2 separate regions of the Homo sapiens genome follow, and region 1 is linked to region 2. Evidence: fine-mapped expression QTL. Tissue or cell type: monocytes after Pam3CSK4. Region 2 holds a variant in brackets; the other region holds the start of a gene. All regions are shown on one strand. Distances are between the middles of the regions.

Evidence for each region.
Region 1: it holds the start of PHETA1, and the variant in region 2 is fine-mapped to the expression of PHETA1 in monocytes after Pam3CSK4 (Quach 2016, PIP 0.95).

The regions. Positions count from the first base shown.
Region 1 is chr12:111,363,098-111,378,799 of GRCh38, forward strand. PHETA1 (PH domain containing endocytic trafficking adaptor 1) reads right to left here and starts at 5,998. Exons shown (of 3, transcript NM_144671.6): 1 at 5,815-5,998; 2 at 3,016-3,160; 3 at 1-366. The coding sequence starts at 330. LINC02356 (long intergenic non-protein coding RNA 2356) reads left to right here and starts at 6,164. Exons shown (of 4, transcript NR_187522.1): 1 at 6,164-6,223; 2 at 8,872-8,973. RefSeq lists a silencer at 5,589-6,168.
Region 2 is chr12:111,321,724-111,337,425 of GRCh38, forward strand. It overlaps CUX2 (cut like homeobox 2), which reads left to right. Exons shown (of 22, transcript NM_015267.4): 18 at 698-857; 19 at 12,718-12,987. Among named protein-coding and RNA genes, the nearest start is that of MIR6760, 25 kb to the left of the region's middle. The variant G/A (reference allele first, on the strand shown) is at 8,364.

The sequences.
Region 1 (15,702 bases), 41 kb after region 2:
ACGCGACAGGGCCTTGACCCAGCCCTCCATGGCATCCTGACTCTCAGCGGCCAGCACGTAGGTGCGCGCCCGGGTCCCCGCAAAGCGCACAGCGAAGGCGAACTCCTCGGCGGCCTCCACCAGCTCCACAGTGCAGCCCTCCAGGATGATGACGCCCACGGGCTCACGGCTGGCAGCGTCCTCGAAGTAGAAGAGCATGTTCCCGCGCAGCACGAACCAGCGCCGGTGGTAGGCCGCGTGCCGCCCACCCTTCTTGTACAGGAAGCCTGCATTGTCCACCGGGGCGTCACAGGTGGCGTAGAAGGCCAGGCTGCGCTCGTTCAGCTTCATGGTGGCAATCGCGGGGCCTGGAGGGGAGCCTGGGGCCTGGACCCCATAGAAGGGCTGTTATGCACAAGGCCACTGACGCTAGGTCACCCAGTGCCCCAAGGGGACCTTGCAGCCACTCTACATCCCCGTTTCACAGATGAGGAAACTGACGCTCATAGGGTGGAAGCAGCTGGCCTATGCGCCCACAACTCCTAAGAAGCAGAGACAGGACTGGAACCTGGGTCTCACGGGCCTCCCCAGACAGCCTCATAACCTCCTACCCTCCTGTATCCCTGAAATAATGTTGTGAGTTCCTGCTGCATGCCAGACATTTCAGAGGAATGAACTCACTTTATCTCACAATAGACCTTAGGTCACAGGGACTGGCCTGGCACCAGTGCAACAGATGAGGAAACAGAGGCACAGAGAGGTTAACTGCTTCCCTGGTGTCACAAAGCAGGTTGGGCAGGGCTGAAATCCAAACCCAGGCCTCATTTCAGGCGCTGCTGTTTCCATCATCCCAAGAACAAGACCAGCTGGCCTTCTGCAGTCCCTGCCAGGTCCCAGCCCTGACTTTGTGGTTCGACTTTGGTTTGTTCATCCATGAAATGGATGAGCAGAACCAACTTTGGAGAGTTGTAGAGATTGATTTCATTCATAAAATGTTTATTAAGCATCTACTGGGTGCCAGGCATTGTTCCAGGCCTAGGGATATAGCAATAACAAGATGGACAGGGTCGTCCAGCCTGGCCAACACAGTGAAACCCCTTCTCTACTAAAAATACAAAAAATAAGCCAGGCGTGGTGGCGGGCGCCTGTAATCCCAGCTACTCGGGAGGCTGAGGCAGGAGAATCACCTAAACCCAGGAGGCGGAGGTTGCAGTGAGCCGAGATTATGCCATTGCACTCCAGCCCGGGCAATAATGTGACACTCTGTCTCAAAAAAAAAAAAAAAGATGGACACGGTCCCTGCCCTCGTGGTGTTGAAATGCCACTGGCAAGTGAAAGGGAGCAGACAGTTAACAAACAGATAAGACGTCTGCCAGGTAGTCTCATGTTCTATGGAAAATAGTAAGACAGGGGCTGGGCACAGTGGCTCACGCCTGTAATCCCAGCACTTTGGAAGGCCAAGGCCAATCCTTCTCACCTGAGGTCAGGAGTTCGAGACCAGCCTGGCCAACATGGCAAAACCCCATCTCTACTAAAAAACAGCCAGGTGAGGTGGTGCACGCCCATAATCCCAGCTACTTGGGAGACTGAGGCAGAAGAATCGCTTGAACCCAAGAGGCGGAGGTTGCAGTGAGCCAAGACTGCGCCATTGCAGTCCAGCCTGGGCGACAGAGCAAGACTCCATCTCAAAAAAAAAAAAAAAATAGCCAGGCATGGTGGGGGGTGCCTATAATCCCAGGTACTTGGGAGGCTGAGGCAGGAGAAGTGCTTGAACCCAGGAGACAGAAGTTGCAGTCAGCCGAGATTGCACTACTACACTCCAGCCTGGGGACAGAGCCAGACTCCGTCTCAAAAAAAAAGAAAGAATTTGGGGAAAGATGCAGGCCCAGGGCTAGGCTGACTTACAGGAAGGAGGGGCAGGGGGTCGACCCGTGCCATTTAGCATAGAGGACTCTAACTCCATGCCATCGGCCACAGTGACCCCATCCACCTTCCCCCAAGGAGTATATGATGGGGCAACGCTGGCCAGGAAGGACTTGTCGGGAGGTGGCATCTGCGTCCCTGGCCTGGCCACCTTCCCTTGGGGTTTTCCATGGCCATTTTGAGAGCCTGCCTTATCTCCCACTGCAGAGCCTCAGCCTGCATAGGATGGTAGCTACATTTTTCAAGAAGCAAAGGATATAAAGTCCTGGTACGCAGTAGGCACTCAGTGTTCATTCCCCTGCCTGGGTGGTGTCTTTCTCAGAGCCTGGTGGAATGAGGTCAGGGTGGTGGCTCTCCTGGGAGCAGGTGACCGCAGTGAGGCCCTGCCAGACTACCTGTCCTAGGGTGGAGGGGGTTGTCCTTGCCACCTCCTGTCAGCCACATAGGCAGTCAGGGAAGGCTTCCTAGAAGACGGAACATGAGTTGTGACTTAGAAACTGAGATCAACCAACCCAAATGCCCATCAATGATAGACTGAATAAAGGAAATGTGGTACATACACACCATGGAAAACTATCCAGCCATAAAAAGGAATGAGATCATGTCCTTTGCGGGGAAATAGATGGAGCTGGAAGCCATCATCCTCAGCAAACTAACACAGGAACAGAAAACCAAATACCGCATGTTCTTACTCATAAGTGGGAGTTGAACAATGAGACACATGGACACAGGGAGGGGCAGAACACATATCGGGGCCTGTTGGGGGATCGGGGGTGAGGGGAGGGAACTTAGAGAACGGGTCAATGGTGCAGCAAGCCACCATGGCACACGTATACCTATGTGACAAGCCTGCATGTTCTGCACATGTATCATGGAACTTAAAATAAAAAAAGAAACTGAGGTCAGTTTGTCCTGACCTAGTGGGAGGCCAAGGCCAGAGCCCCCAAAGTCTCCAGGTGTTGAATCCCCACCCTGCCTCTCAGCTACAGCTGTCCCTCTCTAAGCCGCAGGGATTCACGCATTCCCCACACCACCACCCATCAACTCCCATGTGGATGCTGGCCCCGGTTCTCACAGGACCCTCCCGCCCTGCTTGCCCAGTTCCGCTCCTACCTCTCAGGCCACCACTTGCCTCCCTGCCCTCTGCTCAGCTCCAGCCTCAGCTCGCTCTTCTCTGGATTCAAATGTCAGCTCTGCAGCATCTGGGCTGGGGGACCCCAGGCAGGCTATTCATCTCTCTGGGCCTCTGTTTCTGCATCTGTAAAATGGGATCGTAACAGTGCCTAAGTCAGGGCTGTTGTGACAATGATACAGTGACTATATGGACTTTGCGGAGCATGGGGCCAGGCACACAGTGCCTGCTGAGCGCGGTTGCAGTTCACATTTTTCTTGGCTTTTCCCCAAACATCCCTGTGTTGTGCTTCCGATCTCAGCAAATGGCCCTTGGTTTCCCTCTCACCCCCGCATCTGATCGCACATCAAGTCCAGTTGATCCCCCTCTCCAGCGTCTTCCAAATCAGTTGCCTAATCTGTCCACTCCACCTCCCCATTCTAGGCCCCATCACCATTCACTGGGATGGCTGCTGTAGCCTCCTCATAAGTCTCCTTGCCCCTCCCTGTCCATGTTCCTCAAGGTAAGATCCAAGCCTCCTTCCTAAGCTCTTCTCCGAGCCACACTGAAATCCACTTCCCACAGATGGATCCTGTGAAAATTAAGTCCAATCACACTCCTCCTCTGCTCTAAACCCTCCCATGGCTCCCTACTTCTCTCAGCATAAAATTAAATCCTTAGGCAGGGTGCGGTGGCTCACACCTGTAATGCTGGCACTTTGGGAGGCTGAGGGGGTAGGATTGCTTGAGTTAGAGACCAGCCTGGACAACATAGCAAGACCCTATCTCTATAAAAAATAGAAAAAAAAATAGCTGGGCATGGTGATACAAGCCTCTAGTCCTAGCTATCTGGGAGGCTAACATGGAAGGACCCCTTGAACTTGGGGGGTGACATAGTGAGATTCTGTCTCAAAAAAAAAAAAAAAAAAATCCAAGCCTCCCTTGGCTTCCAAGTTCCCTTTCCCTACCTCTTTCCCCCTTGTTCACTCAGCTCCAGCCATCCTGGCCTCCTTTCTGTTCCTCAAATACACCAGACACATCCCCACCTCCAAGACTTGGTCCCGGCTGTCTGCCTGCAGGTCTTCACAAGGCCAGCTCCCCATCCTTTGGTCTCAGCCTAGCTGTCACCTCCTCAGAGAGGTGGTCCCTGGCCACCCTATGCACAAGAGGCCCCCCAGTCCCTCTCCTGTGCCTCCACCTGAAATTAATACCTGGGTCATTTCTGCCTGCAGGGGCGTTTGTGGTCTGAATTCTAGTGCCTGGCATGCAGTAGGTACTCACACAGCTGTTTGATTCATTCTGCAGTATCTTCTGAAACCTTTCAACAGCCCCAAGACAAGGGATCTCACCCCACATTCACAGATGTGGAAATGGACACAGGGAGATTCAATAAGTTGGCTAGAGGCATACAACTGTGCCCAGAATCACATGCTCCAGGCAAGCCACCCAAATAAAGGGGCTGATCTTGGGGTCTCTCCACCCCATCAAGGCCAAAGGAATAGCAACTTCCCTCCTGCTCAGCAACCCTCCTCCCCCGACTGCCTAGATAGAGGCCAAACTGGTTCAAGGTCACCAGCAGGCACAGGACCCAGCTCTGCCCATGACCCCTGCCTCCACCAGAACTGGGAAGACAGGAAGCTGCAGGGGCACAGGCGCCAGCCTTGCCTGGAGCGAAGGCCTGGCCCCTGCCTTATCTCCCCACACTGTTTTCCAAGAAGTTCAGAGTCCACTGTGGGCACTGCTGCTGATTCAACAGCCCATGGCCAGACAGGAAGCTGGAGGGAGCCTGGCCCAGCTCTGCTCCCAAGGCAAAGTTCCTGCCTCCGCAGGTCCAGGCTGGAGGACCTTGGACAAGTCGTTTCACCTTTCCAAGTCTCAGTGTCCTCATCTGTTAAATTGGGCTGTGTGGCGAGGGTTCATGAGCTAAAAGAAGGAAAACCCACTGGCAAACTATGGGAAATGGATTGCAAATATTAGCTGCTGTGAGTCGGAGTTTTTTCTCAGCCTCATCTGCAAAATGGTGACGTTAACTTCCATCCCTCTAAGGGCTGAGTGAATTGACTCCTGAAGAGTCATTTTGCAAAATACTTGGTGGGTAGTGAGCTTTCAGGGAAAGAGCTGTCAAAAAGGCAAATAATTCATCCAAGATCTCCAGGGGCACAGCTGGCCCCGGAACCCAGGTCTCCTGGGAGACTGAAGCATGGCATTTTGGCACTCACATCAACGAAAAGAAGCCAGTACCGCAGGTCCTGGGGTTGAATCCAGCTGCCCTCAGTGTCCCCCAGCAGCGGGCGTGGGGAAGAGGGTGTGGCAGGCACAGGCTGAAAAACATGTGTGCCAAGAACACTAAAGAGCAGCCTGGCCGTCACCGCCCCAGCAGGGACCCCAGAGACACGCCAGCACCGCCGTCCAGACACAGGCAGCCCCCTTGTCCACGGCAGGGGCTGCTGCTCCAGGTGTGGCCCTGCTCCCGGCTGCTCTCTGTCCCTTTGTGTGTTGTGCGTGGGAGCTCTCTTAAGTTCCTTAAAGGACAGCCAGAGCCCCAGATGGGTGATCAGCGGCAGAATGGGGGGCTTATCCGCAGTCCCCACCAGCGGCAGACGTCCCTATGGGCTGAGAGAGGGGAGGGTGGTCATTGGCCAAGTTCGCCTCGGCAGCTGGAGAAGTCACCACTGGTGCGGAGTCCCAGCGGGGAAGATCCCCGCAACGCGCTCTCCAGGTGGCCGGGGGACCCCGAGGCCCAGGGCGGCCCGACCCGGGTCCCATGTCCTCGTGCATGTCCCCCCGCCAGGCCCGCCTTACCTCGCAGCGCAGGCCTAGGGCGGCGACGGGACGGGAGGCGCGAGGTTGCGGGGTGGCCCGGCCATGGTTCGGGACTGGCCCGGTGGCGGCGACGGCGGCGGCAGCGCTTTGTCTCCTGGGCGGCCGGGCCGGCGCAGCCGCGGGAGAGCGCGGATCCGACGGAAGGAGGCGGGAGCAACCGGACAGTCCGCGACCCACGGGCGCGCCCCTTTAACCCTTCCCAGCCTGCTCGCGCCGGGCCCGCCCCCGCGTTCTTCCCACCTCCCGATTGGCAGGCCCCGAACCGGCACGCCCCCGTGAGCCCGCCCTCGAAATCACTCTTAAAGGGTCCGCTCCTGGCTCGCGACTCCCCAGTTCCCTAGCCCAGAAAAGCGGATTGGAGCCCGGGAAGCTCATTGCGATTCCAAAGGTAAGGACTGGCCCAGGTCGTGGATTAGCCTGCAAAAGCATTTGGGGGTCCTGGGCGGGCCATTCGCTGAAGTCCTAGGCTTAAGTCCGAACTCCCCCCAGGACGAGGCAGGAGGATTGCCTGAGCCTAGTAGTTCAAGACCAGCCTGGGCAGCAGAGGGAGACCACCATCTCTACAAATAATAAAAATATTTGCTAAACCTGGGTTGCCAGGTTTAGCAAATTTAATGCCCAGTTAAATTAGAAAAATAGCTCTAATTCCTGAAAAATGTGTGAGTGGCAGAAAAAACAGCTGAATCCAGGACATTTGCGTACAGCACTGTTCCATACGGACAGGGCGCCTCGCAAGCTTCCCCTGGCTCCAGGTGAAGAGAGGAAGTTCTGGAATTAGGCAGACTTGAGTTCGAGTCGCACTAGGCCACTGAACACTGTGTGAGCTTAGAGAAATCATTTCACTTCTCTAAGCCTCCGTTTCCTCATCCGGAAAATAAAGACCATCATGATATGTAAAGTGCACGGCACAACAGAAAGCTCTCAAGAAATAGGAATTGCTGTTGTTTTTGCCCTGCCCACCTCCTTGAACCCTTCCTTCCTGTTCCTGCCGCCTCTTCTCCACCACCCGCCACCTCCCAATCACTATTAAGTCCTGGCCTGAAAGCAGGAAGAACAGGACAGACCAGGGTCAGCTCTCCATTGTACAGCCTCTCACTAAGCGCCTACTGTGTGCCAGGCACTGTACCTGAACCAGGTAAGCAGGTGCAGCCAGGAATCAAGACAACACAAATGAGTTCTGGAAGTGATTCATGCTAGGACTGTACGCTAAGGCAATGGGGCAGAAAGCCTGGGAGTGCAGTTTTTTTGTTTTTGTTTTTTGTTTTTTGTGTTTTTTTGTCACCCAGGTTGGGGTGCAGTGGCACAATCACAGCTCATTGTAACCTGAACTCCTGGGTTCAACCGAGCCTCCCACCTCAGCCTCCCAAGTAGTTGGGACTACAGGTGTGTACCACCACACCCGGCTAATTTTTTTTAATTTTTTGTAGAGATCGGGGGGGTCTTGCTATCTTGCCCAAGCTGGAAGTGCAGCTTTTAGACAAGGTGGTCAGGGAAGGCCTCTCTGAGGACAGACCTGGAGGAATGAGGGAGGGAGCCATGTGGTTATCTGGGAGAAGGAGGTCCCAGGCAGAGGGAACAGCAAGTGCAAAAGCCCTGAAATGGGGCCATCCTGGGCATGTTTGAAGAACAACGAGGAGACCAGTGGAGCCAAGTGAGCAATGGGAAGAATAGTAGGAAAATAGGTCAGCTGGCTGGGCGCAGTGGCTCACGCCTATAATCCCAGCACTTTGGGAGGCCGAGGCAGGTAGATCACTTGAGGTCAGGAGTTCGAGACCAGCCTAGCCAACATGGTGAAACCCGGTCTCTACTAAAAATACAAAAAAAAAAAAAAAAAAAAATTAGCCAGGCATGGTGGTGTACACCTGTAATCCCAGTTACTTGGGAGGCTGAGACAGGAGAATCACTTGAACCCAGGAGGCAGAGGTTGCAATGAGCTGAGATTGCACCACTGCACTCCAGCCTGGGTGACAGAGCAAGACTCTGTCAAACAAAAAAAAAACAAAAACAAAAAAAAAAACACAATAGATCAGAGATTATTGGCAAAGCCAGAAAGCCAGGTGACCTAGGGGCTTAAGGACCAGAGGAAAGATTTTGCTTTTACTCTAAGAAGAATGAGGAGCCATGGGAGGGTTTTGAGCAGAGGAGGGACATGGTCTGTGTTAGATTTAACATGGTCCCTGACTGCTATGGGCAGGGAATGATAGTAGAAGCCAGGCGATCAGGGAGAACACTACTGCAGTAGTCCAAGCAAGTGATGGTGGTGGCTTAGAGTGGAGCAGTGGAGGTGGAGAGAAGTGGTTAAGTATAGATATATATTTAATGGATATATGTATTAGTCCGTTTTCACACTGCTGATAAAGACATACCCGAAACTGAGAACAAAAAGAGGTTTAATTGGACTTACAGTTCCACATGGCTGAGGAGGCCTTGGAATCATGGCGGGAGGTGAAAGACACTTCTTACATGGCAGTGGCAAGAGAAAGTGAGGAAGAAACAAAAGCGGAAACCCCTGATAAACCCTTCAGATCTCGTGAGACTTATTCACTATTATAAGAATAGCGTAGGAAAGACTGGCCCCCATGACTCAATGACCTCCTCTTGGGTCCCACTCACAACACGTGGGAATTCTGGGAGATACAAATCAAGTTCAGATTTTGGTGGGGACACAGCCAAACCATATCATTTTGCCCCGGCCCCTCCAAATCTCACGTCCTCACATTTCAAAACCAATCATGCCTTCCCAACAGTCCCCCAAAGTCTTAGCTAATTTCAGAATTAACCCAAAATTCCACAGTCCAAAGTCTTGTCTGAGACAAGGCAAGTCCCTTCTGCCTATGAGCCTGTAAAATCAAAAGCAAGCTAGTTACTTCCTAGATACAGTGGGGATGCAGGTATTGGGTAAATACAGCCGTTCCAAATGGGGGAAATTGGCCAAAACAAAGGGGTTACAGGGCCCATGCAAGTCTGAAATCCAGTGGGGCAGTCAAATTTTAAAGCTCCAAAATGATCTCCTTTGACTCCGGGTCTCACATCCAGGTCACGCTGATGCAAGAGATGGGTTCCCATGATCTTGGGCAGCTCCACTCCTGTGGCTTTGCAGGGTACAGGCTTCCTCCTGGCTGCTTTCACGGGCTGGTGGTGAGTATCTGTGGCTTTTCCAGGCACACAGTGCAAGCTGTCAGTGGATCTACCATTTCAGAGTCTGGAGGATGGTGGCCCTCTTCTCACAGCTCCACTAGGCAGTACCCCAGTAGGGACTCTGTGTGGGGGCTCTGAACCCCACATTTCCCTTCTGCACCACCCTAGCAGAGGTTCTCCATGAGGGCCCTGCCCCTGCAGCAAACTTTTGCCTGGGCATCCAGGCATTTCCAAACATCTTCTGAAATCTAGGCAGAGGTTCCCAAACCTGAATTCTTGACTTCTGTGCACCCACAGGCTCAACACCACATGGAAGCTGCCAAGGCTTGGGGCTTCCACCCTCTGAAACCACAGCCTGAGCTCTGTGTTGGTGCCTTTCAGCCATGGCTGGAGCAGCTGGGACACAGAACACCAACTCCCTAGGATGCACACAGCACAGGAACCCAGGGCCTGGCCCACAAAACCACTTTTTCCTCCTGGACCTCTGGACCTGTGATGGAAGGGGCTGCCAGGAAGTTCTCTGACATGGCCTGGAGACATTTCCTCCATGGTCTTGGGGATTAACATTAGGCTCCTTGCTACGTAATGCAAATTTCTGCAGCCGGCTTGAATTTCTCCCCAGAAAATGGGCTTTTCTTTCTATTACAATTTACTTCTTATTTTTTTCTTTTCTTTTCTTTTTTTTTTTTTTTTTTTTTTTTTGAGACAGAGTCTTGCTCTGTTGCCCAGGCTGGAGTGCAGTGGTGTGATCTCAGCTCACTGCAACCTCCGCCTCCTGGGTTCAAGCGGTTCTTCTGTCTCAGCCTCCTGAGTAGCTGGCACCAGGTGCACGCCATTGCACATGGCTAATTTTTTGTATTTTTGGTAGAGATAGGGTTTCACCATGTTGGTCAGGCTGGTCTTGAACTCCTGACCTCAGGTAATCTGCCCACCTTGGCTTCCCAAAGTGCTGAGATTACAGGCTTGAGCCACCGCTCCCAGCCTGCAAGTTACCTCTTGAATGCTTTGCTGCTTAGAAATTTCTTCTACCAGATACCCTAAATCATCTCTCTCAAGTTCAAAGTTCCACAGATCTCTAGGGCAGGGGCAAAATGCCGCCAGTCTCTTTGCTAAAACATAACAAGAGTCACCTCTGCTCCAGTTCCCAACAAGTTCCACATCTCCATCTGAGACCACCTCAGCCTGAATTTTATTGTCCATATCACTATCAGCATTTTGGCAAAGCCATTCAACAAGTCTCTAGGAAGCTTGAAACATTCCCACATTTTCCTGTCTTCTTCTGAGCCCTCCAAACTGTTCCAACCTCTGCCTGTTACAGTTTCAAAGTCACTTCCACATTTTTGCCTATCTTTTCAGCAACACTCCACTCCTGGTACCAATTTACTGTATTCATCCATTTTTGCACTGCTGACAATGACATACCCAAAACTGGGAACAAAAAGAGATTTTTTGGGTTTTTTTGTTTTTGTTTGAGATGGAGTCTTACTCTGTCACCCAGGCTGGAGTGCAGTGGTGCAGTCTCAGCTCACTGCAACCTCCGCCTCCTGGGTTCAAGCAATTTTCCTGCCTCAGCCCCCTGAGTAGCTGGGATTACAGCTGCCACCACGCCTGGCTAATTTTTTGTATTTTTAGTAGAGGTGGAGTTTCACCATGTTGGCCAGGCTGGTCTCGAACTCCTGACCTCTTTTTTTTTTTAAATACTTTAAGTTCTACAGTACATGTGCACAACGTGCAGGTTCGTTACATATGTATACATGTGCCATGTTGGTGTGCTGCACCCATTAACTCGTCATTTACATTAGGTACATCTCCTAATGCTATCCCTCCCCCCTCCCCCCACCCCACGACAGGCCCCGGTGTGTGATGTTCCCCATCCTGTGTCCAAGTGTCGAACTCCTGACCTCTTGATCTGCCCTCCTCAGCCTCCCAAAGTGCTGGGATTACAGGCGTGAGCCACTGCGCCCGGCCAAAAAGAGGTTTAATTGGATTTACAGTTCCACGTGGCTGCGGAGGCCTCAGAGTCATGGCGGGAGGTGAAAGGCACTTCCTACATGGTGGCGGCAGGAGAAAATGAGGAAGAAGCAAAAGCAGAAACCCCTGATAAACCCATCAGATCTCATGAAACTTATTCACTCTCATGAGAATTACACGGGAAAGACCAGCCCCCATGATTCGATGACCTCCCCCAGGGTCCCTCCCACAACACATGGGAATTCTGGGAGATACAATTCAAGTTGAGATTTCAGTGGGGACACAGCCAAACCACATTAATATATATTTAAGATATATGTAAAATTTGATGATAGGTTGCATGTGGGGAATGAGAGAGAGACAGAGAGAGAGGAAGGAAGAAAAGGAGTTAAGAATAACTCCAGGGGCCGGGCACAGTGGTTCACGCCTGTAATCCCAGTACTTTGGGAGGCCAAGGTGGGTGGATCACGAGGTCAGGAGTTTGAGATCAGCCTGGCCAAGATGGTGAAACCCCGTCTCTACTAAAAATACAAAAAAAATTAGCCAGGCGTGGTAGTGGGTGCCTGTAATCCCAGCTACTCGAGAGACTGAGGCAGAGAATTGCTTAAACCCGGGAGGCAGAGGATGCAGTGAGCTGAGGTCACCCCACTGCACTCCAGCCCGGGCGACAGAGCAAAACTCTGTCTCAAAAAACAAAAAAAAAGAAAAGAAGAAAAAGAACTCCAGGGCCAGGTATGCTGGCTTACATCTGTAATCCCCGCACTTTGGGAAGCCGAGGCAGGAGGATCACTTGAGCCTGGGAGTTTGAGACCAGCTTGGGCAACACAGGGAGACCCCATCTCTACAAATGATAAAAATATTACCCAGGGCTGGACACAGTGGCTCACACCAGCAATCCCAGAACTTTGGGAGGCCAAGGTGGGTGGAGACCTCGTCTCTACAAAAAATAAAAAATAAAAATAAAAAGGACTCTCAACTTTTGGACCTAAGTAATGGGAAAAATGGAGATTCGAAGGGAAAAATCCAGATTAGTCTTTTCATCAAATTGAGCTGGAATAACTGGATATTCATATAGAAAAAAACAGCCTTGATACTTACCTCATGCCATACATAAAAATTAACTCAAAATACATCAAACTCTTGCACATAAAAGCTAAACTCTAAAATCTCTAGAAGAAAATAGGGGCTGCCAGGCACAATGGCTCATGCCTGTAATCTCAGCACTTTGGGAGGCCAAACAAAGTGCGAGGATCGCCTGAGTTAGTGACCAGCCTGGGCAAAATAGTAAGAACCCATCTCTTAAAAAATTGTTTTTTAATTAGCTGGGTGTGGTGGCGCATGCCTGTAGTCCCAGCTACTCAGGAACCTGAGGCAGGAGGATCGCTTGAGCCCAGGAGGTCAAGGCCGCAGTGAACTAGGATCACGCCACTGCACCCCAGCCTGAACGACAGAGTGAGACCCTGTCTCCAAAAAATAAGTAAATAAGGTCGGGCACGATGGCTCACACCTGCAATCCCAGCATTTTGGGAGGCCGAGGCGGGCAGATCATGAGGTCAGGAGTTTGAGACCAGCCTGGCCAACAAGGTGAAACCTCATCTCTACTAAAGATACAAAAAATTGGGCCGGGCATGGTGGCTCATGCCTGTAATCCCAGCACTTTGGGAGGCCGAGGCGGGTGGATCACCTGAGGTCAGGAGTTCGAGACCAGCCTTACCAATATGGTGAAACCCTGGCTCTATTAAAAATAAAAATAATTAGCCGGGTGTGGTGGCGTGTGCCTGTAGTCCCAGCTACTTGGGAGGCTGAGGCAGGAGAATTGCTTGAACCCTGGAGGTGGAGGTTGCAGTAGCTGAGATTGCACCACTGCACTCCAGCCTGGACGACAGAGCGAGACTCTGTCTCAAAAAAAAAAAAAAAATACACAAAATTAGCCAGGCATGGTGGCACATGCCTGTAATCCCAGCTACTCGGGAGGCTGAGGCAGGAGAATCACTTGTACCCGGGAGGTGGAGGTTGCACCAAGCCAAGATCGCGCCATTGCACTCCAGCCTGGGCCACAGGGCAAGACTCTACCTCAAAAAAAAAAAAAAAGGAACTAAAAATAATAAAATAGAAAATCTTTACAACTTTAGGATAAAGATTTCTTAAGACTCAAAGAGCATAAACTAGAAAAAAATAAAAATTGGACTTCAGTAGGTTGGGGGGTTTTTTTTGTTTTGTTTTTTTGAGACAGGATTTTGCCCTGTTGTCCAGGCCGGAGTGCAATCTCAGCTCACTGCAACCTCCATCTCCTGGGTTCAAGCATTTCTTCTGCCTCAGCCTCCCAAGTAGCTGGGACTACAGGTGTGTGCCACCATGCCTGGCTAATTTTTGTGTTTTTAGTAGAGACAGAGTTTTGCCATGTTGGCCATGCTGGTCTCGAACTCCTGACCTCAGGTGATCTGCCGGCCTCACCCTCCCAAAGTGCTGGGGTTATAGGTGTGAGCCACTGCACCCGGCCCATATTGACTTTAAAAAAGATAAAGGTTGTTTTTAAAACCTGTTTAAAAAGAGAGAGAGAGGGAGGGAGGGAGGGACGGAGGGAGGAAGGAAAAGGGAAAGGAAAAGGAAAAGGAAAGGAAAGGAAAGATACCATCAGAGAAACAAAAAGATAAGCCACCAACTAACTGAGAAAAAAAATTTTCTTGATATATATATCTGACAGAATCTGAATGCCAGATCTATATAATGAAGTCTTACAACCCAATAATAAGATAAGCAACCCAATCTAAAGACAGGCAAAAGATGTGTGTGTGTGTGTGTTTGAGACAGGGTTTGGTCCTGTTGCCCAGGCTACAGTTCAATGGCATGATCTCCGCTCACGACAACCTCTGCTTCCCAGGCTCAAACCATCCTCCCATCTCAGCCTCCCAAGTAGCTGGGACTACAGGCGCGCGCCACCATGCCTGGCTAATTTTTTTTTTTTTTTTTTTTTTTTTGTATTTTTGGTAGAGATGGAGTTTCACCATGTTGCCCAGGCTGGTCTCGAACTCCTACACTCAAGCAATCCTCCCACCTGGGCCTCCTGAAGTGCTGGGATTACAGGCATGAGCCACCATGCCTGGCCCAGGCAAAAGATGTTAACAGATATTTTATAAAAAGCTGTAATATGGGCCAGGTGTGGTGGCTCACGCCTGTAATCCCAGCACTTTGGGAGGCCGACGTGGGTGGATCACAAGGTCAGGAGATTGAGAATATCCTGGCTAACCTGGTGAAAACCCGTCTCTACTAAAAATACAAAAAATTAGCTGGGCATGGTGGCGTGCGCCTGTAGTCCCAGCTACTTGGGAGGCTGAGGCAGGAGAATGGCGTGAACCCAGGAGGCAGAGCTTGCAGTGAGCCAAGATTGTGCCACTGCACTCCAGCCTGGGCGACACAGAGTGAGACTCTGTCTCAAAAAAAAAAAAGCTATAATATGATATACTGGCTAATAAGCAATGAAAAGATGCCCAGTGTCATTACACATCAGAGAAATGCAAATTGAAACCAAATGAGCTAATACCATGTTCCAATTAGAAAGGCCAAAATTAAAAAGACTGACAACACCAAGTGCTGGTGAGGATGTGGAACAACTGAACTTCCATACTGCTGATGGGAAGGTAGAATGGTATAGCCACTCTGGAAAACAAATTGGCAATTTCTTGTAAAAATGAACAGAAACTCTGCCAGGCAAGGTGGCTCATGCCTGTAATCCCAGCACTGTGGGAGGCTGAGGTGGGCGGATTCACCTGAGGTCAGGAGTTTGAAACCAGCGTGGTCAACATGGTGAAACCCCATCTCTACTAAAAATACAAAAGTTTGCTGGGCGTGATGGTGGGCGCCTGTAATCCCAGCTACTTGGGAGGCTGAGGCAGGAGAATCGTTTGAACCTTGGAGGTGGAGGTTGCAGTGAGCCGAGATCGCACCACTGCACTCCAGCCTGGGTGACAGAGCAAGACTCTGTCTCAAAAAAAAAATAAAAAGGCCGGGTGCAGTAGCTCACGCCTGTAATCCCAGCAGTTTGGGAGGCCAAGACGAGTGGATCGCCTGAGGTCAGGATCAAGACCAGCCTGACCAATACGGCGAAACCCCATCTCTACTAAAAATACAAAAATTAGGCAGGCGTGGTGGCATGCGCCTGTTGTCCCAGCTACTCCGGAGCCTGAGGCTTGTTTGAACCTGGGAGGCAGAGGTTGCAGTGAGCCAAGATTGCACCACTGCACTCCAGCCTGGGTGACAGAGCAAGAGTCTGTCTCAAAAAAAAAAAAAAAAAGAAAAAAAAAAAAAAGAACAGAAACTCGCCATGTACAACCCAGTAATCCCACTCCAAAGTATTTACCAAAGAGAAATGAAAACATGACCACACAAAGACCTGTATGTGACTATTCATAGCAACTTTATTCAGAAACACCAGAAACTAGCAACAACTCAAATATTCATCCACAGATATATGGAGAAACAAATTGTGGTACATCCATTTGATGGAATAGTGCTTAGCCATGAAAAGAAATAAAGTTTCCATTGACATTAAATAACCAGGAGAGCCAGCCACAATGGCTCATGCCTATAATCCCAGCACTTTGGGAGGCCGAGGCGGGCGGATCACCTGAGGTCAGGAGATTGAGACCAGCCTGGCCAACATGGTGAAACCTCGCCTCTGCTAAAAATACAAAAATTAGTTGGGTGTTGTGGCGTGTGCCTGTAGTCCCAGCTACTCGGGAGGCTGAGGCAGGAGAATCG
Region 2 (15,702 bases):
GCTCACCCTAGCCAGGGGACCTCAGTGTTTCCTGATTGGTTGGTGCCCCTGCAATGCCAGTTTTAAGTGTCACCTCTACCTTTAGCAAGGGAATAGGCAAAGGGCCAGGCAAGCTCGGAGGAGGGAGAAATGACTTAAGTGGGAGGTCAGGGAAGGCTTCCTGGAGGAGGGGGGCACTGAAGGATTTTTACATGTAGGGACATTAGGGAGGGTACTGGAGGGGAAGGGCACAGCAACAGCACATGGCAGGCACCTATGAGGAACAAATGAAGGCCGCCTGGACTCCAACAGAGGGGAGGGGAGGGGATGGGAGGCTGGGCATGGTGGCTCACACCTATAATCCCAACACTGTGGGAGGCTGAGTTGGGTGGATCACTTGAGGTCAGGAGTTCGAAACCAGCCTGGCCAATGTGGCAAAACCCCATCTCTACTAAAAATACAAAAATTAGCCAGACGTGCACCAGCCTGGTACAAGTCCCAACTACTAAGGAGGCTGAGGCAGGAGAATCATTTGAACCTGGGAGGCGGAGTTTGCAGTGAGCTGAGATGGTGCCACTGCACTCCATCCTGGGCGACAGACAAAGCGAGACTCTGCCTCAAAAAAAAAAAAAAAAAAAAAAAGGTTGGGGAGGAGAGTGAGGGCCAGGCCCATGTCCCAGGGGCCTGCTGACCTACCCCCCTGGCCCGCCCCTCGCAGGTGCTGGGCCTGTCACAGGGCAGCGTGAGCGACATGCTGTCCCGGCCGAAGCCATGGAGCAAGCTGACGCAGAAGGGGCGGGAGCCCTTCATCCGCATGCAGCTGTGGCTCTCTGACCAGCTCGGCCAGGCAGTGGGCCAGCAGCCTGGTGCCTCCCAGGGTGAGTGCGGGCAGGAGCATCTCAGGGGGTGCTGGCAAACTTCCCACCTGCGCAGTGGCATGTCCGCCTGGCTTTACTGCCCGAGTCTACCTATCTCTCCCTCCCTGCTGCCCTGGCTTTCATCCCAGTCACTGTCATGGCTGCACTGGAACATGGCGGGGGGTCCTGGGGTTTCTCTGCTCCCCTTTCTTCCTTCCTCCAACCAGAGGGAGGCTTCTAGAAGCTGCACGCCTGATGCACTGGGTCCTGGCTTTAAGCCTCCAAGTGGCTCCATGGTGCTCAGAGCAGGTGGAGAATGTGTTTTGCATGTGGAGTCCCACATCTGGAATTGCTCATCGATCTCAGCTCTGTTTCCTGAAGACCTAGCGTGCAGCCTCAGACTCCTTCTTAGCACAGGGCCTTGGGCAGTGCCACCCAGCTGCCCATGATAGCACGAGCAGGCTGGAGTGTCAGCTTTGCCCGGGTGAGGAAACGGAGGCTCAGAGGGATGCCCAAAGTCCCAGAGTCCGGAAGTGCTAGGGGGAGCCCCAGCTCCCTGCCACTGTGGGGACCAGCGGATAAGTCTGCCAGGGCCCTGGTGAGGCACCTACCCGGGCCCTGCACTGGAATGAGGGCACGTGACTGCAAGGAGAGGACATCAGACCTGCCCACTGAGAAGGGCAGAGACCAGGGGAGGCCAGACCCTGAGTCCAAGGATCTGAGCTCAGTCTTGTCAATAGGACAAAACCATATCTCAGGTTCACAGAAACGAGCCAGGTCAGCAGGCCCATATCAACAGGAATATGGACTGGAAACATAATGTCAAGTGACAAAAGCCTCCATCCCAGTGACAGTGCTTACTATAGAAGCTAACACCTACAGGATGAGACTGCACACTGGTGTAGCTGTATGGCTGCAGACTTATGCATTAATATTTAAAAAGAGGCTGAGGACAGGCATGGGGGCTCACGCCTGTAATCCCAGCACTTTGGGAGGCTGAGGCTGGAGGATCTCTTGAAGCCAGGAGTTCAAGATCAGCCTGGGCAATAGAGGGAGACCGTGTCTCTACAAAATATAAAAATAATCAGTTGGAATGGTACGTACCTGTGGTCCCAGCTACTCGGGAGGCTGAGGCAGGAGGATCACTTGAGCTGTGATCATCCCACTGCACTCCGGCTTGGGTGACAGAGTAAGACCTTGTCTCAGAAAAAAGGAGGCCGAGCACAGTGGCTCACGCCTGTAATCCCAATACTTTGGGAGGTGAAGGCAGGAGGATCTCTTGAAGCCTGGAGTTTGAAATCAGCCTTGGCAACATGGCGAAACCTCATCTCTACAAATAAAAAATTAGCCGGGTATGGTAGCATGTGCCTGTAAGGGTGAGGCAGGAGGATCGCTTAAGCCCAGAAGTTCGAGGCTGCAGTGAGCTATGATCATGCCACTGCAGTGCATCTCACACTGCACTGGGCAAGTGAGACCATCTCTAAAAGAATTAATAAAATGAAATGTATAGGCCGGGTGTGATGGCTCACACCTGTAATCCCAGCACTTTGGGAGGCCAAGGCGGGCGGATCACAAAGTCAGGAGTTCGAGACCAGTCTGGCCAACATGGTGAAACCCCGTCTCTACTAAAAATACAAAAAATTAGCTGGAAATGGTGGCGTGCACATGTAATCTTAGCTGCTTAGGAGACTGAAGCGGGAGAATCACATGACCTGGGAGGCAGAGGTTGCAGTTGAACTGAGATCCTCACCATTGCGCTCCAGCCTGGGCAACAGTGTGAGACTCTGTCTCAAAAAAAAAAAAAAAAGAAAGAAAGAAATGCATAAGGAGGCAGCCCCCCAGCTGGGGAGGGAGGTTGCACTGGGCAGGGAGGGGGCCAGGAAGAGGCAGGGCGTGGTGACTTTGCTCTGCTCCTTTCCTATTCTTTTTTTTGTTTTGTTTTGTTTTTGTTTTTGTTTTGAGACAGAGTCTTGCTCTGTTGCCCAGGCTGGAGTGCAATGGCATGATCTCGGCTCACTGCAACCTCTGCCTCCCGGGTTCAAGCGATTCTCCTGCCTCAGCCTCCCGAGTAGCTGGGGTTACAGGCGTGCGCCACCATGCCCAGCTAATTTTGTATTGTTAGTAGAGACGGGGTTTCTCCATGTTGGTCAGGCTGGTCTTGAACTCCTGACCTCAGGTGATCCACCCACCTTGGCCTCCCAAGGTGCTGGGATTACAGGCGTGAGCCACAGCACCTGGCCCTTTCCTGTTTCTTTAAAACAAGAAGGAAGATTGGAAGTGACGGGGGTGAAGTGTCAGCATCGATTACGGTGATGGGTGGAAGGGAGGGGAGGACTTACATATTGTTGTCTGTATATTTCTATATGTTTTTAATAGTTTATAAATACAATGATTTAAAAACTCCTCTCCATAAGGCTGTAACGAGGATTAAAAGCAGCCATGCTGGCCGGGTGGGGTGCCTCATGCCTGTAATCCCAGCACTTTGGGAGGCTGAGGCAGGCGGATCACAAGGTCAGGAGATTGAGACCATCCTGGCTAACTCGGTGAAACCCGTCTCTACTAAAATTACAAAAAAAAAAAAAAAATTATCCGGGCGTGGTGGCAGGCGCCTGTAGTCCCAGCTACTCAGGAGGCTGAGGCAGGAGAATGGTGTGAATCCGGGAGGCGGAGCTTGCAATGAGCCGAGATCCTGTCACTGCACTCCAGCCTGGGCGACAGAGCGAGACTCCGTCTCAAAAGAAAAAAAAAAAAGCAGCCATGCTAATGCTAATGACCGCTGCCACTTACCACACATAGCACCAAGTGGTCAAAGTGCTTTGTCCTGTAATCTTCATGTCAGTCTCCACCAAAGGGACTGTTTATCATTTCCATTTCACAGATGAGGAAATCCAGGGGCATGGTAGTGCAGTGACTTGCCCAAGGCCATCATCCAGTGAGTGGCAGACCTAGGATGAGCACCCTGGGCTGTGGGCCATCAGGCTTCCTGCCCCCTAGGGTCCCGAAATGTGTCTACCCCAGAGCCTACCTGGGAAAAGACTTCCATCCTTTTTTGTTTATAGTGTTGTGGTGGGGAGGGGTGGGTTTTGTTTATAGTGTTGTGGTGGGGGAGGGGTGGGTTTTGTTTATAGTGTTGTGGTGGGGGAGGGGTGGGTTTGTTTATAGTGTTGTGTTGGGGGAGGGGTGGGTTTTGTTTATAGTGTTGTGGTGGGGGAGGGGTGGGTTTTGTTTATAGTGTGGTGGGGGAGGGGTGGGTTTTGTTTATAGTGTTGTGTTGGGGGAGGGGTGGGTTTTGTTTATAGTGTTGTGTTGGGGGAGGGGTGGGTTTTGTTTATAGTGTGTTGGGGGAGGGGTGGGTTTTGTTTATAGTGTGTTGGGGGAGGGGTGGGTTTTGTTTATAGTGTTGTGGTGGGGGAGGGGTGGGTTTTGTTTATAGTGTTGGGGTGGGGGAGGGGTGGGTTTTGTTTATAGTGTTGTGGTGGGGGAGGGGTGGGTTTTGTTTATAGTGTTGGGGTGGGGGAGGGGTGGGTTTTGTTTATAGTGTTGGGGTGGGGGAGGGGTGGGTTTGTTTATAGTGTTGTGATGGGGAGGGGTTGGTTTTGTTTATAGTGTTGTGGTGGGGGAGGGGTGGGTTTGTTTATAGTGTTGTGGTGGGGGAGGGGTGGGTTTTGTTTATAGTGTTGTGGTGGGGGAGGGGTGGGTTTTGTTTATAGTGTTGTGTTGGGGGAGGGGTTGGTTTTGTTTATAGTGTTGTGGTGGGGGAGGGGTGGGTTTTGTTTATAGTGTTGTGGTGGGGGAGGGGTGGGTTTTGTTTATAGTGTTGTGGGGGAGGGGTGGGTTTTGTTTATAGTGTTGTGTTGGGGGAGGGGTGGGTTTTGTTTATAGTCTTGTGGTGGGGTAGGGGTTGGTTTTGTTTTATAGTGTTGTGGTGATGGAGGGGGTTGGTTTTTGGTTTTTTGAGACATAGTCTCACTCTGTCACCCAGGCTGGAGTGGTGAGCCACTGCGCCTGGTCTGTGGTGTTAGGTTTTAACTAACTTTTTTACTGTAGTAAAATTCACATAACAGCTGGGCACCGTGGCTCACACCTGTAATCCCAGCACTTTGGGAGGCCGAGGCGGGCCGATCACTTGAGCCCAGGAATTTGAGACCAGCCTGGCCAACATGGAGAAATCCCGTCTCTCCTAAAAGTACAAAAATTAGCCGGGTGTGGTAGCACGCATCTGTAATCCCAGCTACTCGGGAGGCTAAGGCGAGAGGATCGCTTGAACCCAGGAAGCAGAGGTTGCAGTGAGCCGGATGGCACCACTGCACTGCAGCCTGGGTGACAGAGTGAGACTCTGTCTCAAACAAAGAAACAAACAAACAAAAATCACATAACGTAAAATGTACCTTTTAAACCATTTTTGAAGTATACAATTCAGTGGATCTAATACATGCACAATGCGTGTGACCATCACCTCTGTCTAATTCCAGAATATTCCCACCGCCCCAAAAAGGAACCCCATACCCATCCAGCAGTCATTGCCCATCCTCCTTCCCCCCAGCTCCTGGAATTCCGCTTTCTTTCTGTCTGGATTTGCCTCTTCTGAATGTTTCATATAGATGGAATCCTGTACTACTTGGCCTTCTGTGGCTGGCTTCTTTCAGTTAACGTGTTTTCAAGGCTCATACAGGCTGTAGTATGCATCAGAATTTCCTTCCTTTTTTATGGCTAAATGATATTCCATTGTATGGATAGACCCCATTTTGACTATTTTGAATAATGCGCCTATGAAAATTTGTGTACATATTTGTGTTTGAACCCCCATTTTCAGTTCTTCGAACATATATCTAGGAGTACAGTTGGCTAGATCATATGGTAACTCTTGTGTTTAACTTACTGAGGAAGTTCAAAGGGTTTCTGTTTCTCCAGGTCCTTACCAACATGGGTTATCTCCCATTTGTTGACGCTAGCCATCCTGGTGGGTGTGTAAGTGGTATTTCACTGTAGTTTTTATTTGCATTTCCCCAATGTCTGATTGTTTTGGTTGTAGATTTTATTGTCATGGAAGGATTTGACCACAGGTAGGATAGAGGTAAGCAGAGAAGATGGAGAATGGTGCTCCTTGTGGAAGGAATGGCACAGGCAGCGGCTAGGAGGTGGGACCATGCACGGCCTGGGAAGGGATGTGAGTAGAGGTGGCGGGGTCCCCTGCTCTCCCAGAATAGGAAGCCAAGGCTAGGCACAGTGCGTCACACCTGTAGTCCCAGGACTTTGGGAGGCTAAAGCAGGCGGATCACTTGAGGTCAGGAGTTTGAGACCAGCCTGACCAACATGGCAAAACCCCTTCTGTACAAAATTACAAAAATACAAAAATCAGCTGGGCATGGTGGCAGGTGCCTGTAGTCCCAGCTACTCAGGAGGCTGAGGTATGAGGATGCTTGAGCCTAGGAGGTCAAGGCTGCAGTGAACTGGAGTGAGTGCCTTCCAGTCTGGACAATAGAGCGAGACCCTGTCTCAAAAACAATAATAATAATGATGAGGGAATCAGGCCTGGAGGTGGCTACTGTAGCTGCTGGCCCTAGGGAGAGAGTGGTGATGGCAGAGCCACCCTCACAGCCTCTGCTTGTTCATAACCCACTGGGCCTGGAAGCAAAAGGGTGTATCCATTGCCCACAAAGTCCCACAGAGTCTGGCTGTGGGGCTGGGTGTCAGGACCTGTCCAAGCCCCGCTTGTGTATGCCCTGGCCACTGGGGCGGGCAGGGACCGGCACTGGAACCCTGACCATACCTGTTACTGAAGTTGAGCCAGATGCCACGGGAGGGTTATAAAGCACGCCCTTATCCCCACGTCCACTGCCAGGCGCAGCCCCGGGTATAATCGGCGCTACCTACCGTGGCAGCATCAGTATTCCAGACCCTTCCATCCGAGGTTTCTCAGAATTCTCAAGCAGTCAAGGAAGCCCTGTCCTGTCCCCATACACAGTCCCTGTCTTCCCTCTGTCTCTCTCCTGATCTCTGTCTCTCTCCTCCAATTTCTTTTGTGTGTGTGTGTGTGTGTGTGTGTGTGTGTGTGTGTGTGACAGAGTCTCACTCTGTCGCCCAGGCTGGAGTGCAATGGTGTGATCTCGGCTCACTGTAACCTCCGGCTCCTGGGTTCAAGCAATTCTCCTGCCTCAGTCTCCGAAGTAGCTGGGATTACAGGCACCCAACTAATTTTTTGTATTTTTAGAAGAGACAGGTTTTGCCATGTTGGCCAGGCTGGTCTTGAACTCCTGACCTCAGGTGATCCACCCACCTTGGCCTCCCAAAGTGCTGGGATTACAGGCATGAGCTACTGCACCCAGTCACCTCCATTGTCTTCTTTCTGTTTTTCTCACTCTGCATTTTTTTGATTCACCTATCTCTCTCTCTCTCTCTCTCTCTCTCTCTCTCTCCCCCTCTCTCCCTCTCTCCCTCTCCCTCTCCTCCCCCCACCCCACTCTCTCTCTCCCCCTGCCTCTCTCACCATCTCTCTCCCCCTCTGTTTGCTCTGTCTCTTCCTCCCTGACCCTCCCTGTCCCTCCAGTGCTCTCTTTTCATCTCTCTTGCACCATCCTTATCTCTCCAGGAGAGAGAGATTTCCCAGGATCTGGAACTTTCTGTAGTAAAATAAGGAAAGTCGCGGGCAGACTGGGATGGGTTGGTCACTCTGCTCTCTCTCCTGTCCCCAGCTGCCCACAGCCCTGTCTGGCACCCCACCCACAAGCCCAGCAAGGCAAGAAGACCCTGCCTCTCCCTGTCGTCGCCTCCCTCTCCAAATAACCCAGTTGTTCACATGTGACTCCCCCAGCCCTGTAATTAGCACAGTCTTCCTGATAGAGATAATTTCTGAATCTTTCCATCACTTCGTCAGAAGCGATTCTCAGTCAGAGGAGTCAGAAAGGCGGGGTTCTCCCTGGGGGAGTGGGATTGGGGGGTGGCTGTGTTCTTTCCTGCCAATCATCTCCATGTCATCCTGTTCGCTTCGCTTCTTGGCCCTCTAGGTTGGGACATGGGTGCAGATAGTTTTCCAAGAGGGAGATGCCTTCAAAGACCCTCAGTTTTTTGTGTTTTTTGTTTGTTTGTTTGTTTTCGAGGTGGAGTCTTGTTCTTTCACCTAGGCTGGAGTGCAGTGGCGCAATCCCGGCTCACTGCGACCTCTGCCTCCCAGGTTCAACCAATTCTCCTGCCTCAGCCTCCAGAGTAGCTGGGGCTACAGGTGTGTGCAAACACACCTGGCTAATTTTTTGTATTTTTAGTAGAGATGGGGTTTCACCATGTTGGCCAGGCTGGTCTCGAACCCCTGACCTCAGGTGATCCACCCGCGTTGGCCTTCCAAAGTGCAGGGATTACAGGCGTGAGCCACCATGCCCGGCCCAAAGACCGTCAGTTTTCCAGCTGGCCCCAGCCCCTCTCCTGCTGCCGACAGTGGGCAGACACCTAGGACAGACTCTCACTTTCCCAGACTGGCCCTCCCACACCAACATGGCATCAGTGTTGGTAACAGTGAGCCTGGAACATGCCCAC[G/A]TCAGCCTTGGCATCACATGGATGCTACCTGAATGGCCAGGATCAGCTCACTTGGGGCTGGGGGCACAGTAGACTTCTTGAGACCTCACGGTCACAAAGGGCCATGATGCTGCTACTTCGAACTCGGGGGCTTCACCTTGCCCTCTTCAGGAGTACTCAGGGATCCTGGCTGAAATTACTCCATAGGCATCTGCCCAGAGCCCCTGCCCCACCCCCAGGCTCTGGGGACTCACCTGTGACTAACTTGTAGTCCTTGCCTTCAAGGGGCTCACAGTTGGTAGATGAGAGGACAGTGTTGGGCATAACCCAACCCCAGCTCAAGTCCTGACTTTGCCATTTATTGCTGTGTGATCTTGGACACGTTGTCTAACCTCTCTGAACCTCGGTTTCCTCACCCATAAAATGGGATGACATAGCACTTACCTCTTAGAGGTGTCATGAGGGTCACTTGAGATCATGAGCATTGGCCAGCCACAGTGACCCATGCCTGTAATCCCAACACTTTGGGAGGCCGAGGCAGGAGGATGACTTGAGCCCAGGAGTTTGATACCAGCCTGGGCCACATAGTGAAACCCTATCTCTATTTAAAAATACATATACATATATATATATATATATATATATATATATATATATATATATATATATATATATATATATATATAAAGAGAGAGGGATCATAGGCATAAAGCACATAATACTACACTGGGCATGTAGTAAGTACTCAATAAAGGGAATTTATTAACATCATCATCATTGTCATCAGTAAGGAAGAGATCTGGCCCAAGCAAGAAATTATAGCAAACTGTGACAATATATATTCAAGGTGCTATTAGACCCCAAAAGTCTAATAGACCTCAGGGAAGGGACATTTAGGACTGGATCTTGAGGAATGCATAGGAGTTCAAGATTAGAAGGAAAGTCCTCAGGATGGCAAGACCAGCCTGAGCAAAGACATAGGGGCTTAGAGAGGAGCCTAGATGTTTGTGAAGGGGAGTGAGGGAAATGCTGTAGCTCCAGTTGGCAGGGACAAGGGAGTTCAGAGCCTTAATCACCAAGACAAGGTGATAGACATTTCTTGCACAAGGGGCAATGGGGAGCCATTGATGATTCTGGAGCATAGGAGTGGTCTGATCCGAGTGACCAACTCACCCACGACAGAGAAGGAAGGAACCCATCCTGGGCTCAGGATGTCTCTTCTGAAAGTAAAGCCGTTGCTCCCTTTTCTTCCAGCTGTCATACATTTTAATGGTTATTTTAACAAGTTTCCAGCAGGTGGCAGTTGAATGCCTCAAGGAAGAGGCATCTTTTTCTAATGTGCTGGGATTAGGTGTGGCCAGTGCTGGGATTCCTAGACCCCACACCATGCTTGCCAACCCATTAGGGGTGCCTCCCTGGGGATGCTCCCACCTTTCCTGGTTTCTCAGGAGGCTCAGCTCACACTGGGACTCCCATGGGTGCCTCTAATGCCCCAGGAGGTGGAGGTGGTAGAGGAGGTGGAGGTGGACCCTTGCCCCACGTTATCTCATGGAGGTCTCTCGATGGCCCCAAGTAGTATGTATAATGCTACGTGTCTTATGGCCCCATTTAACAGATGGAAGGACGGAGGCTTGGCAAAGTCATCCACCCGAGATCACAAGCCCCAGATATCTTTCAAATCATTTTTCCAATATATAGTCACACAAAATGTCTTTTGAAAAATGAAAAATGGGCCCGGCATGGTAGTTCAAGCCTGTAATCCCAGTACTTTGGGGGCGCCGAGGAGGGTGGATCACTTGAGGTCAGGAATTCAAGACCAGCCTGGCCAATATGGCGAAACCCCATCTCTACTAACAATACAAAAGTTAGCCGGGTGTGGTGGCAAACGCTTGTAATCCCAGCTATGGGGGAGGCTGAGGCAGGAGAATCACTTGAACCCAGGAGGCTAGGTTGCAGTGCGCCAAGATCATGCCACTGCACTCCAGCCTGGGCGACAGAGTGAGTGAGACTCCATCTCCAAAAAAAAAGAAAAATGAAAAATGTAGTTTAAAAATCTGTCTACCTTTTTTTTTTTTTTTTTTTTTGGAAACAGAGTCTTGCTCTATTGCCCAGGCTGGAGTGCAGTGGTGTGATCTCGGCTCTCTGCGAGCTCCGCCTCCCAGGTTCAAGCGATTCTGCTGCCTCAGCCTCCCGAGTAGCTGGGATTACAGGCATGTGCCACCATGCCCAGCTAATTTTTGTATTTTTTAGTAGAGACGGGGTTTCACCATTTGGCCAGGCTGGTCTCCAACTCCTGACCTTAGGTGATCCTCCCACCTTGGCCTCCCAAATTGCTGGGATTATGGGCATGAGCCACTGCACCCGGCCCCAATCTAGCTTTTTAATGTGGCATTGCACCATGGACATCTTTTCATTACATTTTCTTTCATTGCCTCGGAAGAGCCCACTGCAGGGATCCCCCATATTTTATTCAGCCAATCTCCTGTGGTTGAACTTGTAGATCATTGCTGGATCATTGCTGACTTCTTTAGTTGTTGCCGTTTATTTAACTTTTCGTTTTGAGGTAACTTCTAATTTACAGAAAAATTGAAACAGTAGAACAGCAAACTCCCTGCACTGTACCCAGTTTGAACAGTTATTAATTTTGCCATAATCGTGCTCTTTCTCTGCCATTTGAGGAATTCATTGACATCTTGTCCCTTTAGCCCTAAATGCTTCAACAAGTGCTTTCCAAAAACAAGAAATTTTACAGTGGTAAAATACTGGCATGTATCCCACCATCTATATTCAGGTTTCTTCAGTTGTCCCAATAATATCCTTTATGAGCTATATAAATTTTTAGATACAATATATAAATCTTGGCCAGGTGCTGTGGCTCACGCCTGCAATACCAGCACTTTGGGAGGCTAAGGCAGGTAGATCACTTGAGGTCAGGAGTTTGAGACCAGCCTGGCCAACATGGTGGAACCCCGTCTCTACTAAGAATACAAAAAATTAGCCGGGTGTGGTGGCATGCACCTATAATCCCAGTGACTTAGGAGGCTGAGGCACAAGAATCTCTTGAACCCGTGAGGTGGAGGTTGCAGTGAGCCAAGATCATGCCACTGCACTTCAGCCTGGGTGAAGTTTTTTGAGACAGAGTGAAACTCTTGTCTCAAAAAAAGAAAAGTGAGCCAGGCATGATGATGCACACCTGTGGTCCGAGCTGCTTGGGAGGCTAAGGTGGAAGGATCACTTGAGCCCAGGAGGTCGAGGTTGCAGTGAGTTATCACCAAGCCACTGCACTCCATCCTGGGCAACACAGCAAGACCCTGTCTCAAAATGAATTAATTAAATAAAATATGTAAATTTCTTTTCCCTGTGCAGGATGAGATTCAAGATCACTTGTGTTTAGTTTTCATGTTTTGATTTCGACAGTTCTGCCTTTCTTTGTTTTCCAGTGTTGCCCTTTCTGAAGAGTAGAGGCTGTTATTTCCTGGACAGTCTGAGTTTGGTTGCCTGATGTTCCCTTGAAATCAGATTCGGGCTGTGTACTTGGGGCTGGGAATATCACAGAAGTGATGCCATGTCCTTCTCAGGCCATCCTCTCAGGAGGCCCATGTTGCTGACTTGCCCTGTGATTGGTGATAGTAACTTGGATCATTGGTTAAGATGGTATCCACCAGTGCCTGTAATCCCAGCTAGTCAGGAGGCTGACGCAGGAGAATCGCTTGAACCCGGGAAAGAGGTTGCAGTGAGCCGAGATCGCACCACTGCACTCCAGCCTGGGTGACAGAGAGAGTCCAACCAGGTCTCTGTACTGTAAAGTGGCTACTTTTCCCTTTGTAATTACTAAGCATCGGCCAGGTGTGGTGGCTCATGTCTGTAATCCCAGCACTTTGGGAGGCTGAGGCGGGTGGATCATGAGGTCAGGAGATTGAGACCATCCTGGCTAACATGGTGAAACCCCGTCTCTACTAAAGATACAAAAAATTAGCAGGGCGTAGTGGCGCATGCCTGTAGTCCCAGCTACTTGGGAGGCTGAGGCAGGAGAATCGCTTGAACCCGGGAGGCGGAGGTTGCAGTGAGCCGAGATCACACCACTGCACTCCAGCCTAGGCAACAGAGCGAGACTCCGTCTTAAAAAAAAAAAAAAAATTGCTAAGCATCATGTGGGGAGATACTTGGAGACTTTGTAGAAATCCCAGTCCAGTCCTCATCAAACTTTCATCCACTAGTTTTAGCATCCAGGGTGGTCCCTACCTGAGCGATTATTACTACAGTGGTTGCAAAATGGGTGTTTGGCAACTCTTGGCTGTAAGAAGCAAGCCTCCCGAAAGTGGATGTGTCTGTGCCAGATTATAGTAACCACCTTCTCTTTCTCTGTGGCCCACAGCCAGTCCCACAGAACCAAGGTCCTCACCATCCCCACCCCCCAGCCCCACAGAGCCTGAGAAGAGCTCCCAGGAGCCGTTGAGCCTGTCCCTGGAGAGCAGCAAGGAGAACCAGCAGCCAGAGGGCCGCTCCAGCTCCTCGTTGAGCGGGAAGATGTACTCAGGCAGCCAGGCCCCAGGGGGCATCCAGGAGATCGTGGCCATGTCCCCCGAGCTGGACACGTACTCCATCACCAAGAGGGTGAAGGAGGTCCTCACAGACAACAATCTAGGTACGGAGCGGGTGGGAATCGGAGAGGCTGCCTCCCACCTGGGTTGGCTCCTACTTGCCTTGAAAAGGTGTCTGGAGCTGGGACCCAGTGGCTCATACCTGTAATTCCAGTGCTTTGGGAGGCCAGGGAGGGAGGATCGCTTGAGGCCAGGAGTTTGAGGCCAACCTGGGCAGCATAGCAAGATCTCATATCTTAAAAAAGCTTTTTAAAATTAGCTGAAAACTCCATGCATACAAACTTCACACGTGTTGGTGCATGCCTGTAGTCCTAGCAACTCAGGAGCCTGAGGCAGGAGAATCGCGTGAGCCCAGGAGTTCAAGGCTGCAGTGAGCTATGATCATGCCACTGCATGCCAGCCTGGGCAACAGAGCAAGACCTTGTCTATAAAATAAATTAATGGCTGTGCATGGTGGCTCACACCTGTAATCCCAGCATTTTGGGAGGCCCAGGCAGGTGGATCATCTGAGGTCAGCAGTTCGAGACCAGCCTGGCCAACATGGTGAAACCTCGTCTCTACTAAAAATACAAAAAAATTAACCAGGCGTGGTGGCACATGCCTGTAGTCCCAGCTACTTGGGAGGCTGAGGCAGGAGAATCGCTTGAACCTGGGAGGCAGAGGTTGCAGTGAGCCGAGATCACACCACTGCACTCTAGCCAAGGCGACAGAGCGAGACCTCATCTCAAAAAAAAAATCAGTCAATCAGTAAAATAAAAAACAAGCTGGGCCCGGTGCCTCACGCCTGTAACCTCAGCACTTTGGGAGGCCAAGGCAGGCGAATCACCTCAGGTCAGGAGTTCCAGATCAGCCTGGCCAACATGGTGAAACCCCATCTCTACTAAAAATACAAAAAGTAGCCGGGTGTGGTGGCATGCACTTGGAATCCCAGCAACTCAGGAGGCTGAGGAGAATCGTTTGAATCCAGGAGGTGGAGGTTGCAGTGAGCCGAGATTGTACCACTGCACTCCAGCCTGGGCAACACAGTGAGACTCCATCTCCAAAAAAATAAAAAATAAAAAAGCTTCCTAAAATTAGCTGCAAACTTCATGCAAACAAACTTCACACATTGTGGTGAATGCCTATAGTCCTCAGGAAGCTGAGGCAGGAGGCCTGCACGAGCCCAGGAATTCAAGGCTGCAGTGAGCTATGATCATGCCATTGCACTCCAGCCTGGACGACAGAGGAAGACCTTGTCTCTAAAAAAGTTAAATTAAAAAAAAAAAAAGACAAAAGTGCCCACGGTGAGATCCCAGGGCACTGGAGTCAGCCCCAGGGCATCCAGGACCCTGTGTGAGGCATCTGGCTCTGACCTGGGTCTGGGATAGGACAAAGTGAATGCAGGTCTGAGAGGACCTGGAATTCTCAGCCCACGGCTTTAAAAACTTCCTTCCAGGAAGACGTGGAGAACCCCAGTCACTGCGGAACTCCAGCTCAGTCCTCACCCGGTGCTGAAGTCTTTGCCCTCTTGGGCCACAGTGGAAAAATCTCTTCTAGGGCTCTTTCCCTTTTTGGGACACAAATTCCTCTGAGTCTTAAATGCGGGTGATGCCCCCCTACCAGAGGGATGTATGCAAACCCCAACATTTTCACTACAATTCCTGTTATAAAAATAAGACATATTCATTGTTTTAAGGTATACCGAAAAGTACAGGAAAAAAAAAGTTACTAAAAAAGTAAATAAATCCCTCCCCATTGGCCTCTCAGACACTTCAGTGTTGTGTGTGTGTGTGTGTGTGTGTGTGTGTGTGTGTTTAAGATGGAGTCTCCTGTCACCCAGGCCCCAGGCTGGAGTGCAGTCGTACGATCTCAGCTCACTGCAACCTCCGCCTCCCAGGTTCAAGTGATTCTCCTGCCTCAGCCACCCTAGTAGCAGGGATTACAGGCCTGAGCCACCACTCCTGGCTAATTTTTTTATTTTTAGTAGAGACAGAGTTTCACCATGCTGGCCAGACTGGTCACGAACTCTTGACCTCAAGTGATCCTCCCGCCTCATCCTCCCAAAATGCAGGGGTTACAGGTGTGAGCCACCGTGCCCAGCCCACACTTCAGTTTTTTAATGTCTCTTTGACACTTTCTGAACACATATAAGAACATATATACACTTAATTTCCTCTCCTTTTTTTTCTGTGTAGACGAAATGATACAAATATTGCGTTGCAACTTGCTTTTGAAAAATGAACACTAGGCTGGGTGTAGTGGCTCACACCTGTAATCCCAGCACTTTGGGAGGCCGAGGCGGGAGGACTGTTGGAGGGCATGAGTTCCAGACCAGCCTGGGCAACACGGCGAAACCCCGTCTCTACAAAAAATAGAAAAATTAACTGGGCATGGTAGTGTGTGCCTATAGTCCCAGCCACTCGGGAGGATAAGGCAGGAGGATGGCTTGAGCCCAGGAGACAGAGGTTGCAAGGAGCCAAGATCACACCACTGCAGTCCAGCCTGGGTGATAGAGCCAAACTTTGTCCCCAAAAAAATGAAAAATAAAAATACAAAAATTAGCCAGGTGTGGTGGCTTAAGCCTGTGCTCTCAGCTACTTGGGAGGCTGAGGTGGGAGGATCACTTGAACCTGGGAGGCAGAGGTTATAGTGAGCTGAGATCACACCACTGCACTCCAGCCTAGGTGATAGAGTGAGACCCTGTCTCAAAAAAAAAAAAAAAAGAAAAGAAAAATGAACACTATTTTGTGGGCACCCTTCCACCCACGTTAGAATAATTC